Linked DNA regions of Homo sapiens: region 1 is linked to region 2. The links come from fine-mapping of genetic effects on gene expression. A gene starts in region 2. The other region holds a variant in brackets. All regions are shown on one strand. Distances are from middle to middle.

Evidence for each region. PIP is the estimated chance that this variant, and not a neighbour inherited with it, causes the effect.
Region 1: its variant is fine-mapped to the expression of CTNNB1 in visceral fat (GTEx, PIP above 0.99).

The regions. Positions count from the first base shown.
Region 1 is chr3:40,967,025-40,975,359 of GRCh38, reverse strand. No RefSeq gene overlaps it. Among named protein-coding and RNA genes, the nearest start is that of CTNNB1, 230 kb to the left of the region's middle. RefSeq lists a silencer at 3,707-3,756 and enhancers at 3,049-4,248, 6,087-6,587. The variant C/T (reference allele first, on the strand shown) is at 3,414.
Region 2 is chr3:41,195,377-41,203,711 of GRCh38, reverse strand. CTNNB1 (catenin beta 1) reads right to left here and starts at 4,207. Exons shown (of 15, transcript NM_001904.4): 1 at 4,042-4,207. RefSeq lists enhancers at 3,337-3,446, 4,157-4,216, 3,558-4,504, 7,519-8,335 and silencers at 3,797-3,916, 4,347-4,806.

The DNA of each region.
Region 1 (8,335 bases), 230 kb after region 2:
AGAGTATGGCTTCAGAGGGAGGGAGCTGCATCAAATCCTGATATTCCACAAAGAACCATATGAAGGTGCTTCAACAATCCTGATCTCAGTCCCCTTTCTGCAAAAATGAGAATAATAAAGACCCATCTTACAAGGTTGTTGTGGCAATAAGATAGGAAGATGCACACAAACACTTTGCACAATGCTTGGTTTATCTGTGGGGGCTCAATAGTTGTTGGATGAATCTTAAAGTACATTGAATAGCAGTGAACATTTGGAAAGTGGTGTGGTTTATTGGTTGAAGCCTTAGACTTACTGTACCAAACAGATATCCTGGCTCTGCCAGTTACTAATATCTGACCTAGAGAAGGTAACCTAATTCACCAAGCCTTGATTTTCTTCTTTGTAAAGTAGAACAAATACAAGTAACTGCATTATAGGGCTCCAAAGATTATCAAATAAGAAAATCTAGATAAAGGACTGTGCCCAACAAATTGTAGAAGCTCCATAAATGTAGTTATTATTATGTTATGATTATGTTTATTACATATGGGCTCATCTATTAAATTAATAAAGGAGGGAAGGAAGGAATGATGGGAAGGGCTGTGGCTCATGTTCAAGGGAGGGATTTTCTTGCTTCTCTTTGCGTACTCATCCTGATGTAGCATTAAACTGTGTGGACTGCTCAGAGCCAACAGTGGACTGAGAAAGATCAAGGGTTGCAGGGGTGGGGTGTGGTCTGGGCAGAAGCTCTCTTGAGAGAACAAGAAACAAATTAGTTTTCATTATTTTTATTTTATGTATTTATTTTAAATGTATTTATTTATTAACTCAATAACTATTATTGACCCCTTATTATATACGAGGCCCTGTGCTGGGCTCTCAGGATACAGGGATAAATAGAACAGACATGGTCTCACCCCTCATGAAGCTTGCAGTCTAGAGGGAGGGTCAGATATTAAAGAAGAAAACCAAATCAGCATATAATAGCAAATTATGATGTTTGCTATGAAATAAAACAGCTGGATTCAATGAGACAGGATAACAGGAAGGATCATCTTTTGATGGTGAGGAAAGGCCTCTGGGAAGGTCTGAGGAGATGGCACTTATGCTGAGACTGGATGGATAAGAAGGAAATAGCCCCACAAAAGGTAGGAGAGGAGGAATTCCAGGGAGAGGGTACAACAGTGTAGAGACCTTGAAGTCAGAAAGGGTTTGGTGTCACAGGGGAAGAAGGGGCTGGAATGTAAGTAGGGAAAAAGGAGTTTGAAGTGAGGCTGGTGACAGCTGGAGCTGGAGCCCGCAGGGATTTGCTGGCCCCATTAGAGTTTTGATTCTGTTCTGAAGCCATTGGAGGATTTAGACCCAAGGAAGGACAGTCTGCTTTGAGCTTTGGCAAGGCCATTCTGGCTTTCTTGTCAGAGCACAATAGAAGCCGGAAGGCTGGTAAGGATGTGATTTCAAGGATTCAGGTAGGAGGAGGTGGGGGCTGGGTCTAGGGAGATGGCCTTGGAGGTGAAAAGAGGTAAATGAATTTGGAAGCATAATAGGACACGGTGATGGACTAACTGTGGGAGTGAGAAGGAGAGAGAAACTCAGGGACAAATTCCAGATTCTCACCTGAGCAACTGGTGGATGCTCGGTGAGAGGAATGGGTTATAGGTTTCATTTTAAACAAATTAAGTTTGAGATAATATGATATATCCAAATGTGTGATATCATCTAGTGAGTCTAGAGCTAGGAAGTGAGGTCTGGGCTGAAAATATACCTTCGAGACTTGTCAGCATTTGCACGATATTTAAAACCACAGGCCAGCTCAGTGTGTAGGGCTCCAACTGACACCCTATTCTTATTCTCTTTTTTGTGCCAACTGGCCTAGAATTTTAATAGAGCCCTGGCTGCCCTGCTGACCCCAGCATGTTCATGCTGCGTCTACAGTGGCCTATGCCAAGGGGTGGTCCCTGGGGCACACCAGACCTCCTCTTCTTCTCTACAACAGTCTTGTGTTAGCAAGGCCAGTCCAACATGACTGGCACCAGAGCCTTACACTATAACACCTTTCTTCTTGGAAAGGCCCCAGGCACCAAGCGCTGTCTGTGAAGAAGACTGGAGAGCCAAGATGTAGAATTAGGCATGTGTGTGGGCTGAGGGCCCAGTGCAGCACATGGAACTTTGTAGGTGAAGTTTTCTGCTTTCCCTGGTTCTAGATCTTTGTATCTCAGGTCCTAGGCTCTTCCCAGTTCTGGAAGATCCCAGTGTCTTTCTCTGAGCTTCCTTTTCTTTTAGAATTGCATGTTCAAGGACCTTTAACAAATACTCAACTCCCTTAACATTTTTTTTTCTAATTTCATCTAAATGTTCACCTAAGCTGTTCATTCTCTGTCTTCTAGAAGTTAGTGAAACAGAATTATCAGAACCAGGCTCTCTTTTGGATGCAGTTGGTGTTTCTCCAAGGTGCTTATTACCTGTTACGGTTATTGCATGCTGGGACTGAGGTATAAACACTTCTGCTCAGGAGACCGAAGGCAGGTTAGGGGAGGCTGTAGGTACCTAGTTGGTAGAGTTTGCTGCAGAATCCTGGAAACAATATTTGGTCTAGGCTCAGACAGCTCTAGTTCAATGCCAAGATCTGCCTGGTATTAGCTGTATGGCATAGGACATGCCATTTATTGTTCCTTCAGTTTCTGCATCGTAAATAGTGATGATTTCAGGATTGTTGTTAGATTATGAGGAATATGGGAGAGTGCTTTGTACACTGTAAACACAATTACAAATGTAGTATGTTTTTCCTGTGCACACTCAGCAATTTGTATGATTAACTCTTTTGCATCTCTGCTTCTCCCTGTTGCTCTAGTTTGTTCACATCCAGGGGGCTAGATCAGACAAGCCTACACAGCTAGTAGCAGGTACGAGGAGGCATCGGATTGTGGCAGCTTCTTCTCTCCAAAGATGCCTCATGTCATTGTGCTTTCAAGGAAAAACAGCAAAGTATTTTTTTCGTTTTTTTTTAATTGGTATGTTGATATCTACTGGCGTACATTTTGTGTAACAATAGGCAAATATTAGGATTGTTAAGATGTTAGAGTAGGGAGAAGGATGCAGGGAATAGAGGACAGAGATAAATTTTACAGTTTGTGAAGATATGCGTGTTCACATCTTGTTTTGTTTTTCCTTTACCCAAACAAATAAATAAGAAAAACTGCCCACTTTGCTCTCTTATCTACCCTTCCTGTGTTCTCATTGGGGCAGAGCTCTGCTGGGGAAGGAAGCGGCCACAACCCCAGGCATTTACTACCTGTTCTCCCCACCTGCTATTTGAGAGAAGTTTTCAAGCTGAAGTTCGTACAGCTGCATTCACTTGGACATGAATATCTGGGAGTTCACGGGTTTGTCTGCCCCTTTGGCCTGAGAGAGCTGGGCGGAAGCCTCCTTGA[C/T]GTCTGTGTTGACTCTCTGTTTCTCTGGTTTTTCTCTGGCCCAGTTTCCTGTTCACCTCTGTCCTCTGCTGTCTGGTAGGCTTGACTCATAGGAAACCACAGCCAAGTCACCTAGTGGTCTGAGTCACTGACCTTTGGAGCATCTCTTTCTTAAAAAACAATAAAGACAAAAGTAAGTGCCTAAGTAAGTACTGCATTTTGCAATAGATTTCAGCTAAGTATTGCACTGAACGGTTAGTTCTGGGAAGTCCCCACTTGTGACTTATTTTTGGCAACTGTGCTATAAGCAAATCATTTTATCTCCTAGCAACCGACTTCCCTCTTCCCTCCCTCCCTCCCTCCTTTGTATCCACAAGTGTTTGCTGAGAACCCTTTGTGTCCAGGCACTACATTAGGTTCTGAGCACAAAATGAAGACATAGAATGGTCCTCAACAAGCTGCTGATGCCCATAAGAAAGAGGCCTGCAAACATGTGTAAACAAGTGTGACAAGTTCACCGGCAAGGGGCAGCACAGGGTGGCACTGAACTCAGCCTCGGTATTGCCCTGACCACATGGCTGCATGTGAGCATGCCAGGTGAGGTGAGCAGGAGAGATGTTCTAGGCAGCGTTGGATGATTCTCTGTCACATTCCTTTGTGGTCAACTGAATTGCTCTCTTCAACTGCAGCTTTCACTGAGGCCACTTGAGGTTGCACAACTCCTTCCAGACACAGGTGAGCTCCACAGAGGGAGGATATGGACAAGGGGCTAGATTGGAAGGAAGATGGAGGAGAGTGATCCTTACAGCCCTGACATCGGTCAAGGGAGGCTAATAGCAGTGACCTTCCCCATCAATGTCATGTGGACTGGACAGCAATGACCAGGTGATCCATTGGTGGGGAAGTGTCCCCACAGGGACAATGGGGAACAGTCTATTCAGAAGGGACAATATGCTCGTAGCTGATGCTTTTGGCACCCTGTAACAAATCCCCTCAGCACACCTATGATTTTGTCACAGATCTGGTAGAGAGTGCAATGTGGGTTCCCATGACAATGCCCTCTTGAAACATGAAAAATGCTTCCCTGTTTTTTTGCCTCAAAGCCATCTCTGAAACTGGGAGCCCAGTCAGCCCCCAAGCAAGTACAACCTGCAAGTATGGAGAGGTAACGCCCTAGGAGCCATCTCTAACCAGTGAAGAATGAGAGCCAGTAAGCAAGTCTAGCCACTCCTCTTTTGGAGGGAACATTCTAGAAGGCATTCTGCACACTTGCCAAAGGTCACAGAAGAATTGAGCCCCTGTTGCCCAAAGCAGCAACCTTAATGATGCACACTCAGTGGCTTTTCATTCTTCCCTGTCTCACTCTCTCCCTTTTCTTTCACCTCTGCTTTTTGGGATCTCCTCCCAAATAAACCACCTGCACCAAGTCCTTGTGTCTAGTCTCAGGCTGTGATTTTAAGGGAGCCCAAACTAAGAGAGCAATATTATTAAAATTAAAGTTTTGAAATGAAAAGCATTTGAAGGTCCACTAGCAGTCTCCTTAAAATACCACCTACTACCTTTTGGTATTACCATTTATACCTGAGCCAGAGGAAAGGAGAATTCCAAAAAAGGCCTTAAAAACCCTCTGACCCACAGGAAATAGCTGCCATCTAGTCAGGCTGGGCAAAGGGCTTAGTAATACAGAAAGTGAAAAGGGGCTCATGGGGGCCTTAGCAGGGTGACTCAATTTAGTGGGTGAGAAGGAATTCTTGTTTAACTTAGGGGAAAACTACTGGGTAATATTCTTTTCCCTAGTCATAATGGTTACATTAAAAAAAAAAAAAACCCACATCGCTAGAAGGGCTAATGGTTAAGAAAAGATTGGGACAATGAGGCTCTATATGAACTAAAACGCTTATATTGTTACATTCATAAAAGCATGTTGAATTAAGAAAATAACAGGAATTTTATAGTTTGAAAATGAAAATAAAAGTTAATAGACACAAGGCTTCAAGATGGCTGACTAGAGGCATCTGGTACTTGCTTCCTCTGCAAAGAACTGAAACAGTGAGTGGATAATCACACTTAGAATAGATCATCTAAGAGGGAACACTGGAATGCAACAGGAAAGCGATAGGAAACACCTAAAGCAAGGAAGGAGAGGAAAGCAAGGCAGCCTGATTGGCTAGGAGTATGGAGAGGCTCTCCAATGCAGGAAAAGGGTAAGTCAGAGACCCCCAGTGGTCTGCATTCCCAACACAGACTCCTGCAATCCTAGCCACGAAAGAACCTCTTGACCACCAAGGCTGAAGTGCAAGCTGCTGCACATTTTCATGAGCCCTGAGGATAGACACTCCCACCTGCCACTGCCGCTTGGGGCTGAAATACATGCTCCCCAGCCACCTGCCTACTGCTTCTGCCACTCAAAGCAACCCTTCCCTCCCTAGGAGGGCTGCAGTGAAGCTGCTGCCACCTGCACTCATGTAAGCATTCCTCCAGAGCCTGAAAATCACCCAACCCCTGCCTACCACAGCCAGCACCTGCATGTGCAACCAGGTCCTCCTGGCCCAGCTTCACCCTCTCCAATGCCCAAGCATGCTTCCCGGGGGCCTGAGGATTACCTAACCCCATCCACCATCATTGATACCTAAGCACTCCTCCAGAGGGCTTGAGGTTGAGCCCACCCAATGTGTCACTACCACTACAGCTGGCACCTACCCACACATGCCACATATGGGCCTGGGGACTGGCCCACCCATCCTGTTGCAGCCACCCGCAATACCAGTGCAGGCTGCTCAGGAGCCAGACAGTTGTTCCACCACTGATACTGCCATTGCCCATGTCATGCTTGCTGTTCAGGGTCTGAAGCCTACTCACCCATCCACCAGGTCCATGATGGCAACTACTAGCACCTGAGCAAGTCCTCAAGGGGCCCAAGAATTGACCCACCTGAACCTGTGAACACTGATGCCAGTGTATGCTGCCCTAGGGCCCAAGGACAGGAATGCTCAGTTTGCCACTGCCATTGCTGAAGCCCATGGACTGATTTACCTGGTGTTTCCATCCTCAGCAAAACTTCACCACAGCCTCCATTAACAACTGCACCCTAAGCCACAAATACCACTGAATGCTGTTTATAGCCAAATAAACCATATGAAGACCACACTATTGCAGGCACTCAGAATCAAAGCCAAAGTGCCCTACCCAGCTAATACCATAGACACACGTTCAGAAAAAAGTCCTCCCCTACAAAAGGAAATACAAAAAGTTGGTAGAAGTAACTATTACACCAGATGCACAGATAATGTAAAGAACACAAGAGACAGAAAAAAGCAAGGAAATATGACACCTCCAAATGAACACAAAAATTCTCCAGCAGTAGATTTCAATGAAAAAAATTTATGAAATTCTGGAAAAAGAATTCAAAATAATATGATTAAAGAAACAGTGAGGTATAAGAAAACACAGATAAATAATATAAGAAATCAGGAATGTGATTCAGATTCTGAATGAGAAATATACCAAAACAGATAGCTACCATCAAAAAGAACAAAATTTTAGAACTGAAAAACTTTGCATTGAATAAAATGCGAAATACATTTGAAAATTTCAAGAATAGATCAGATTGAACAGGAAAAAAAAAGTCAGAATTAAAGACAGGACTTTTGAAATAACCCAGTCAAACAACAATAAAGAAAAAAGAATGAACAAAGCCTACGTAACATACAGAATACCATAAAGCAATCAAAAAAATTTCTGGTTTAGAATTTCTTAGAATTTCATATTGCCTTGCTTTTTCATGTTTCTTGTGTTCCTACATTTTTGTCTGTGCGTCTTGTGTAACAGTTACTTCTTCCAATTCTTTGAATTTGCTTTTGTAGAGGAGAACTTTTTTCTGAAGATACATATGATGTTGATTGGGTAGGGCTCTTTGGCTTTGATTCTGGGTGCATGCAGTAGTATAATCTTCATATGATTTCTTTGGCTATAAACAGAAGGCAAAGAGGAAATGAAAGGGATGGAAGACCTATTTGACAAAATAATAACTGAAAACTTCCCAAGTCTAGCAAGAGATTTAGATATTGAGATACAGGAAACTCAGAGATCCTCAAATAGATACAATTTAAAAAGATCTTCATGGCACATTATAGTCAAACTGTCAAAGGTCAAAGACAGAGTATTCTTAAAACAGCAAGAGGAAAGCATCTAGTCACTTATAGAGGAACTTGCTTCAGACAAACAGTAGATTCTCAGCAGAAACCTTATAGGACAGGAAATAATAAAATGATATATTCAAGTGCCAAAACAAAATAAACCTGCCAGTCAAAGATACTATACCTAGGAAACTTATTCTTCATAAATGAGGGAGAAATAAAGTCTTTCCTAACAAGCAAAAGCTGAGGGAACTTATCATCACTAGACAAGCCCCAAAAGAAATGCTTAAGGGAGTCCTACAGCTGGAAGTCAAAGGATAATATCTACCATCAGAAAAATAATGAAAGTATAAAACCCACTAGTAGAAGAAACTCACAAATAAAGAAGGGAAAGAATTCAATTGTTACCACTATAGAAAACCACAAAATCACAAGGATAAACAATAAGTAAAAAGAAAAGAATAAAAGACATATAAAGCAATCAGAAATCAATTAATAAAATGATAGGAATAAGCCATCACATATCAAAAATAGCCTTGAATATAAATAGATGATACAGTTAAAAGATATACACTGACTGAATGGATTAAAAAATGACCCAACTATATGCTGCCTATAAGAAACTCACCTCACATGTAAAGACACATAAAGTCTGAAAGTAAAGGAATGGAACAAAGATATTCCAAGCAAATGGAAACCAAAAGTAAGCAGGAATAGCTATTCTTACATCAGACAACAGACTTTAGGTCAAAAACAATGAAAAGAAACAAAGAAATCTATTATATAATAATAAAGGGATCAATTTAG
Region 2 (8,335 bases):
CACCACTATGTACAAATGAGACCAACCCTATGGTCACTAAGGGCATTATATTTTAGGTCACATACACTGGCTCAATTACCTTTATTTCTATCTATTTCCTAATATAATCAAGTTGAGCACTTATGTTTTACTCTGTGAATGATTTTAGACAAATTGACAATTCACATTTTCATTAATTTTTTTCTGAGAATTTCAGTTGCTGTAATTCATCAATATAACTGAATATTATGATCTTTTACCTCCTAAAGTACTATACTGAGATTCTGGTTTATCATTATGATATATTTAAGCAGAACTGCCTACTCAAAGTGACCTTAAAAAACCTCCCGACTTTTCTACTGCAAATATTGGCTGAGAAGACATTTTCTCAAGCCTGTATTTTAATTAGCAGTAATGATATTAATTATTTTAGAAATCAAAGGTTTCTTAGTTGATTCTCCCTCATCAGAACTATTCCTAAATATATCCCACATAAACTTGTTTGGAATTAAAAAAAAAAAAATCACAAGCATTATACTATATCCACTGGAGGGCACTCAACATGACCCAAGCATGCAATGAAAACATGCTCCAACACTACTCACTCTGCTGCTTCAGGCTTGAGGGAAACTTGGAGAGTGGGGAATGTCTCTTAACAGAAGAGATGCCCATGAGTTAAAAAAAAAAAAAAAAAAAAGTGGCTAAACCCTAAAAATGGGTTCCTAATGTGATTGACTTTATCTTTCAAGAGCTTATTTTTCCTTAGGAAGGAAGCAAATTATATGCATACTTCAAGGACAGCAGGGTTCAGGCCTCAACAGATGAGCCTAGGTTTCAAACTGAGTCAAGCTCAGTCTTGCATGAAACACAAAAGCAGCATTCTTAAGTAAACAGAGGAAATAAAGAACTTTCCCCTGAGTTTAAGTGATGAAAAACTATAGGAGTTAACTCCTATACTCATTTAGATCAACACAAATCATATTATTTTCCTTTTGTGAAACCTGAGTATTTATTTTAACCGACTGGTCCACTTACCTATCACAATCACAACTGCAATATTACATAAATAGTCTGTTAGAGAAGGACAACTGAATCTGCAAATCAGTATCTTCTCAATGAGAGTACAAGGAGGCAATGGCTACATACGATGGACAAACCAGAAGCCGCTCCTGGGCTATGTTTACTATTTACTTTTATGGTATAAAAATGTTCTCAGTCAAGCAGTTTCAACAATAGATACCACAGTTCCAATAAAAAGAGGGCTACAAGAAAACTAAGTTAACACATATTTTCAAAAACAATGTCACAAATCAACATGACACACTACAAAAGAGTTGCAAATACCTTTTGTTAGAAGTTTGTCCAGTTCTAAAAGCCTTCATCCTTTGTGCCCCGGGTTGGCAGTCAAGCATGCTTCCGACTAAGCTCAAAGTACAAACTTAAAACTTACCACCTACTCATCTACAATTATTGATTATCAGAAGCTAGGAAACCACAAGAGAAATAAAAATAATCTTGTAACAGGACAGATGTATTATTTCATTTCAATAACACTGAAGTTTCATTTGGCTAAATATACTTCTATAGTCTATTGCAGGAGATTTAATTTCACTGCTACTTATAACTACAAAATAATTATATTCAAACTTTTAATTCTCTACATCCCTAGTTTCAACAATACTTAGCATGCGCCTCTCCCCACCTCACCCTATAACAAAAACGAGTATCTGCAATAGTTTTGCTAACACATTTCAAAATACCCTTGGAGAAACTTGCCTCCTCGTTTTCTATCTTGGTGGTGGTGTTATTAAAACAAGCATACAGACCCTCATTTATGCCAATTTTTATTCCAGTCATTAACAGGAACAGTAAGCTCAGTCTGATAAATTTTAATACTGGAAATACACTTTTCTATATCATGTTGGTAAAAGAAATAATCAGATAACAGTTTAAAAAACCCCTCTTCCATACTCTGAAACCTGAACACTGTTAAATGCTTCATTTTTTTTTAATTAGCCACCTTATTTTTTTTTAAGTTGGTTTTTCCTGAAAACTTTTAAATGACTGTTCTGGTCTGTGGGAGACTCAGGACTCCACAGGACTCTAAAGTTACATGCTATACTAAGCTTTCTAGCACAGGTTTTTTATTTTTCCCCACCCCCAGGACTTCAAACTTGAATAGTCTCAGCATTCCTTTAATCCTACAGAATAGACTTCTGAAAGTTTTTCAAGTTACTGTTGCAATAATCTCAGGGCCTTGTCCTTGTACACGGCCTTCAGAACAAAGGTTAGGTCAAAGTAATGAATATTGGGCGCAAATTAACCAAATTTTGTCTGGTGTGAAAGGACATCCTCAAACCTTTAAGGGTACTTTTTTTTTAATCAGAGATTTTTCAAAGATTTAAATATAAAAGTAAAATAAATTCCGCACAGCCTTAGTTCAAACGAAAAGCCTCCAAAGTAGAAATTTATGTCAATAATTTAAGCAGAGAATAAACCAGCAGTATAACATAAATAACACTTGAGACTATATTTACTATTTCTTAGGATGAATACAAGTCAACACGAAGACATCTGAAGGTATTGAATGTTCGTTCACCAAGTGACAAATACTGAAATGGCTTCCTAAATTCCAGACAAACTACAACTTAGCGATCTGAAAAACATTAGCCTAGACTTTATGAAAGGAAATGCTGCCGTCTCTTCAAGTTGATGTCTAGCCTAAGCCACCATTATTCATGATACAAAGCTCTCATTTCACTAAAACCACTCCTCGATTTCCTTTTGCCGACCTCTGCATACCAGCAGCCTAGTCTTTCTTCATTCACCACTCACAAACTCGAGGGGTGGGGGGAAGACCACAGATGTCTGGAAGATACAAAGTAGGAGACAACGCTCCCTCCAAAAGGGAAGAGAACGAAGGCAACAACTACATACACCCAACTGCCAAAGCTTTCAAGCTTGGCAGATTCAGAAGCAGGCTATAGGAACTTAACTTCGAAAAGTCTCGGTTCAAAGTCCTCTCTCCAGACAAAACACTGAAAGAAGTTGCAATGCTTGAATTCCATTTGGCCAGCTTTGGAGCGAAGGAAAAATTCACTCCGCTGAAAAGAAAACGTGCTCTATAATTCAATTTTAGCTGCCATCAAACTATTTGAATAAATTTAAATTATTTCTACGAACAAAATTCTCGAAGCGGTCTGAGTCAGAGGCTGAATCCTGCAGTTCACTTGGTAAGAAACAGTAAGCCATCACCTTCGCCTTCCTCCACCCCCTTATTTCACCAGGGTCTCATACCCACTACCATAAATCCATAAGACTCCCAGTACATTATCCACTGCTTTCACTCACCTGCATAGTACGCTAAAATACAGGTGCAAGACATGGATTTTTTATGTGCTCACCCTACTGACGCATCGCACCCGCTGCACTTAGAGTTTAGTTGCTCTAAGGTTTAAAGTTGCTTCGATTCAAACTCACATAGCCAGGGCATTAAAAAAAATAATAACACTTCTATTCTTAAGAATGAAAGAGGAAATCTTAAGAGAAAGTCCACTGGTCCGATCCCCAGGACTGATGGGACTTAGGGTGGCGTCTCTGCCTCAGCGCCCGAACCCCAACTCGCCGCAAGAGCTGAGAAGGCGGAGCCCCCCGTCCCCACCCCGCCCCCCACCCAGGGCCCGGCGCATCCCGAGGCACCGGGTCCCTCCCCCAAACTCGGCCAAGGCCAGAGCCCCGGACGGAAACCACAGACCCCCACCCCCACCCCCACCCCGCCTGCCATCCGGGCTCCTGTACGCGCCCCCGCGGCGCCCCCTCCCCGCAAGCGATGCCCCCAGGGCCCCAGAGAGGCAGCGCGACCGGAACCCGGGCCCGGCCGCCGCCCTCCGCGCCCCGGGCGCGGCCCACCCTCACCGTCCCCCACCTGAGCTCCCCGCTCCCAACCCCAGGCCTCCCGGCTGCGCCCAGCCCGCCGCCCGGACCGCGCGCCTGCTACGAAGTTTGGCTCCGAGAGGAAGCGGGAGCAGCCCCGGAAGGATAAGGAAAGGAGCGCCCAAGCACCTCAGGGGAACAGGCTCCTCCCGCCGCGGGAGTCCGACCGTCCTCGACCTGCGGTGGCGGCTCGGCGGGGACTGAAGCTGCTCCTCAGACCTTCCTCCGTCTCCGCCTCCCCTCGCTCTCCGCTCCCGGGGCCGGGCCAACGCTGCTGCCACAGACCGAGAGGCTTAAAATGGCGCCGCACAAGGAGCTCTTATAAGTCGCGCAGAAGCCGCTGTATCCTGCCGCCACCGGCGCAGCGCGGAGCGTTCCGCCGCGCGAGGACAAGGGGCGGGGCGCGAGGGGGCGGTGGAAAGTAGTCCCCGCGCCGCCCAGCAGTCTGCTGCCGTCTGAGCGCCCCGGGCCGGGGTGGGGTGCCTGGGCACCCCACGGACGCTCCCCGGGGTGACGGCTGGCGGCTGCCCGCTGCGCGGCCTGAGGGCAGCCCGTGAGGGCGCTGTGGTCTGCATCGGGGAGGCCGGGCCCCCGCGGCCTGGGTTGGGGAAGGTGGCCCTGGTATCCTCCCCTGTCCCAAGCCCGACGCCCCCGCCCCGCGCGTTTCCCGAACCGGGAGAGCAGCTGCAGGACTCGGCGCGCCTTTCCCGCGGCCTGCGGAAGGTGGCATCTCGGCCCCGGCCTTCGAGTACCGCTCGGGGCGGCCGGGACAGGTCCTGGGAGGGCGGAAGTTCGGGGCCAGGGCGGCGGCAGGGGCTCGGGTTCAGCGCCCGCCCGTCTTGGGGCGCTCCTGGCCCCGCAGCTGCCCCGTCGCTGGTCTGCGGGTTCCCGGCCGGGCGCGGGTTAGGGGGCCTCGCCGACCTTGTGGTCTGTGCCGCACACTCCCTGCTGGACCTGGGTCGCAGCCCAGTCTCACAGCACCCCCAAAGCCCCCCACTGTCCGGATGGTGGATCCCACCTCTCAGCAGGCTGTTCAGCTTGAATTTCGACCTGAATCACCGGGCCGAGCCGCCTTCTGTCCCCACTCACGAAGGCTGTGAACTCTCCGTAGAACGGGCGCCAAGCCCGCAATTCAACAAGTCCTTAGGAGTACCTACTGTGAACAAATAACTAATGGAAATGGATTAGCTCCAGAGCGCTGTCAATTAGGTTAATTCTTATAGATTCCATTTTTATCTGGTTCCACTTGTCACTAGGTATCAATAGATTTATTTGTGGGGATTTTTCTTTGGAGAAGAAGATTTTTACGGTATTACTTATTTGTGAAATCCAAGTATGTTTATAGAGAAAGCTATCGATTAAGCAGCCTCCAATTTTTTAACTAATTTTCTATTTAAAAACGTTTGTAATTCATTTCAATAGACTGAAAAATGTTTCCCATTCTAATGCAGCAAAATTGACGTTTGTCGAAGCTGCAACAAGTATGATCGATTCAGTTTCTCTAGGCTATTGTTTGTGCTTATTTTTCCTCCAAAACATTGGAGAGAGTACAAAAAGCAGCAGTGAAAGTTACCTCTGTGCTTTTATCCCAGGACTACAATTAATACAAGCAAACAATAGGTCTTAACACATAGATGCAGGCGGAAAACCCACTTATTCATTCACTCATGGAGGTAGGATATGTAGTTTAAGGCACAGCTCATGTTTCAGGGCCAGCGTATTCTTTAAATAACTTTTATTTTTGTCTTAAAGATATTTTACTATATAAGTGGTAATGCCAACTGCCGTCTGTCACCATAGCACATGTGGGCCACTGCAGTGGAAAAAGTCTACACACTAAGATGATGTTCAGTGAGATCCATTGTCTAGAAAGACCTTCTCATTTGTATCTTTCCTACTAATTCTGTAGAATCTAAGTGTAGCTATTGGTTGTGGTCACAATTCAAAAAGATTGAACCGAAAAAGGTATTTCATCAAAACCGTGTTTCTAATATAAACTCAAAAGTATAAATGGCGTTTTCAGGTACTGATTCCTAATTTTAATTGTCATTTGCAGAATTAAGGAATATGCAATTGATTAAAGTCATACATTGAAAATCAGACGACAGATTAACCACTTTTACAGGGCTTTTTTTAAAAAAACATGTTTGCTTTTTCTATGTGCAGGTTTTTTGTTTTTGAATAAGGCACTCTTGAAATTGGTTAAGAAATATCTGCACCATTAGAAGATCTAAAGGATAAAAACGTTTCTATATTTGTATTTCTCTGTTCCATTACCAAAATAATGGAATCATTTTTCTATAATTTAAATACTTTAAATTTAGAATTATGATTTTTAATCCCTACTGACACCGTAAACAAATACATTTTATTAAAGAAAATGTAAAATTTGCAACAATGCAGCATGCTGTTTTTCCCATCATATTAAGTGTACTGAAGAATTACTGGTTGACTAGCATTAAACCAAGTTAGTTAAATTTAACATTGCTCCTAATTTTTATTTGCATGTTTCATAAAGCAGAAATTGTTCTAGTTGTCTCACCAAAAATAAGAGATGAATAACTTCTGTGAAATGAAGACAAACACTATCATTAAATCAAAGAAAAATACATTATCAAGATACATGAGTTTGGTAAAATAAGTAATTTTGTTAAATAATTTTTTTGAATTGACCTTGGACAATACATTTCATAAAAACAGTTGGTTATCTGTTTTATGTCTTTTCCTTCTAGAGCCAGTCACCCCGGGTTTGACATAAATTAATTTTATAAAATGGCGACAGACAAGTGGTTCTAATTTTTAGGCTGTGTTCTTAGAAACAAAAGTGTCTCCAGCTAGTTTAAAAGAGAAGATATTTCTTTTCACGCTATCAGGCCACTGGCATATAAAGCAGTGGTAGACTGAACCTGAATGTAAGGCATCCCTTCGCTAAAACAGAGGCTTTTGATTACCTTTAAGAGAGGAAAAAAAAAAAAAAAAGCCAAGATTATTTCACACTTCAGACAGAAATATGAATCACAGAAATATGCCAGTATTGTAAAGAAGGTTCGTTCACTTTTAGGATACTTAACTCTATCAAATCCATTAATTAAACATTTATTGAGCATCTAAGACAATGAGCTTCCCTTAGAGAGAGGGAAACGGATGACTGGCTCCATTTGATTAAGTCTCTTAAATTAATGTAAAATTGTAACTGTTAATCCACCCTATTTAAAAAGAAGCAGAAACGGTAGAAAAAAAGCTGTGAAAGTAGGGTGTGGTCTCACTTGGACTCTACATCCGAATCCCCTCGGAAGGCTCCCTTCCCAGCAGAAAGGTAAGAATAATATTCCATGCATTTAAAAACAAACAATCCCAACTCTCCAAGAAGGCTTGTTAAAAATATTTCTTAGGACAATGTAAAAACACTGGACAACAATCAGGATCAGCTTTTCATTTAGCAGTTCATCAGGTGGGCTATTTATGGATTGGGACTTTTGATTTGTAATACATCATCTCAGGGTTCAGTGTTATCTTTTGATTTCTTTCCAGCTGAACAGGCTAAGTAGTTGTAAATACCTCTTGTCAGACTACATGGTTGGCTATTCTCGCACACAGAAGTAATCTAGGAACCCACTGGGCAAGTTCGGCGGAAAGCCACTGTGGAAAGCTTGCAGCTGATGTATACTGCAGAGCGAGGGAGGGGCGGTGAAGGTGGCGGGAGGCAATGGCCATGGTGGTTGCTATGGCCTGGTCACTTCAGTTATGTCAGGAACACCCTACATGCTTGGAGTTATGTGTACTCGAGGCCTTCATTGGTTTGCCAGACTAAGGAAGTACATTTTAATGGCTACCATACAAAGTATGAAGGAGAAGCAATGGAGTCATCGTCCATGATATTCAAAGAACATAAAGGTATATATGTTTCTCAATGTTTCTAAGAACTCAGACAAGTACCGCTGCATTTCTAAGAAATCATGTTTCGGAGACACACACCCGCAACACACGCACGTGCACACACACACACACCCCATTAAAAATTTCAAAATGGTTGCAGATATTTCATTCACAAGAAGGTTAAAGGCGTTTCCCATCGCAAGAAGGATTAACTTACCGGAGGATTCTGGGACTGCAGATGTATACTGCGGCAAAATCCTAAATTCATCGAAAAAATCATTTCTGGACTCCAGCTGCTAAAAATAATAGAATTATAGTAAATCATGGATAAGATTAAAACAAGCCATTTTCACCTTCCAAAGTATTCAGAAAAAAAAATGATTCTTTTCTTTTAAGTCATTTCTTAAACAATGCAAATTTTAAAGTAGCTTTTCTTTCCAGACCTCGCAGCGCCATGAAATCGATAATTTTTGATCTTTTGGTTAGTAGGCAACATGGTGAGCTATTGCAGGGACTGCAGGCAGCAGACATGTTCTTGTCAGCTAAA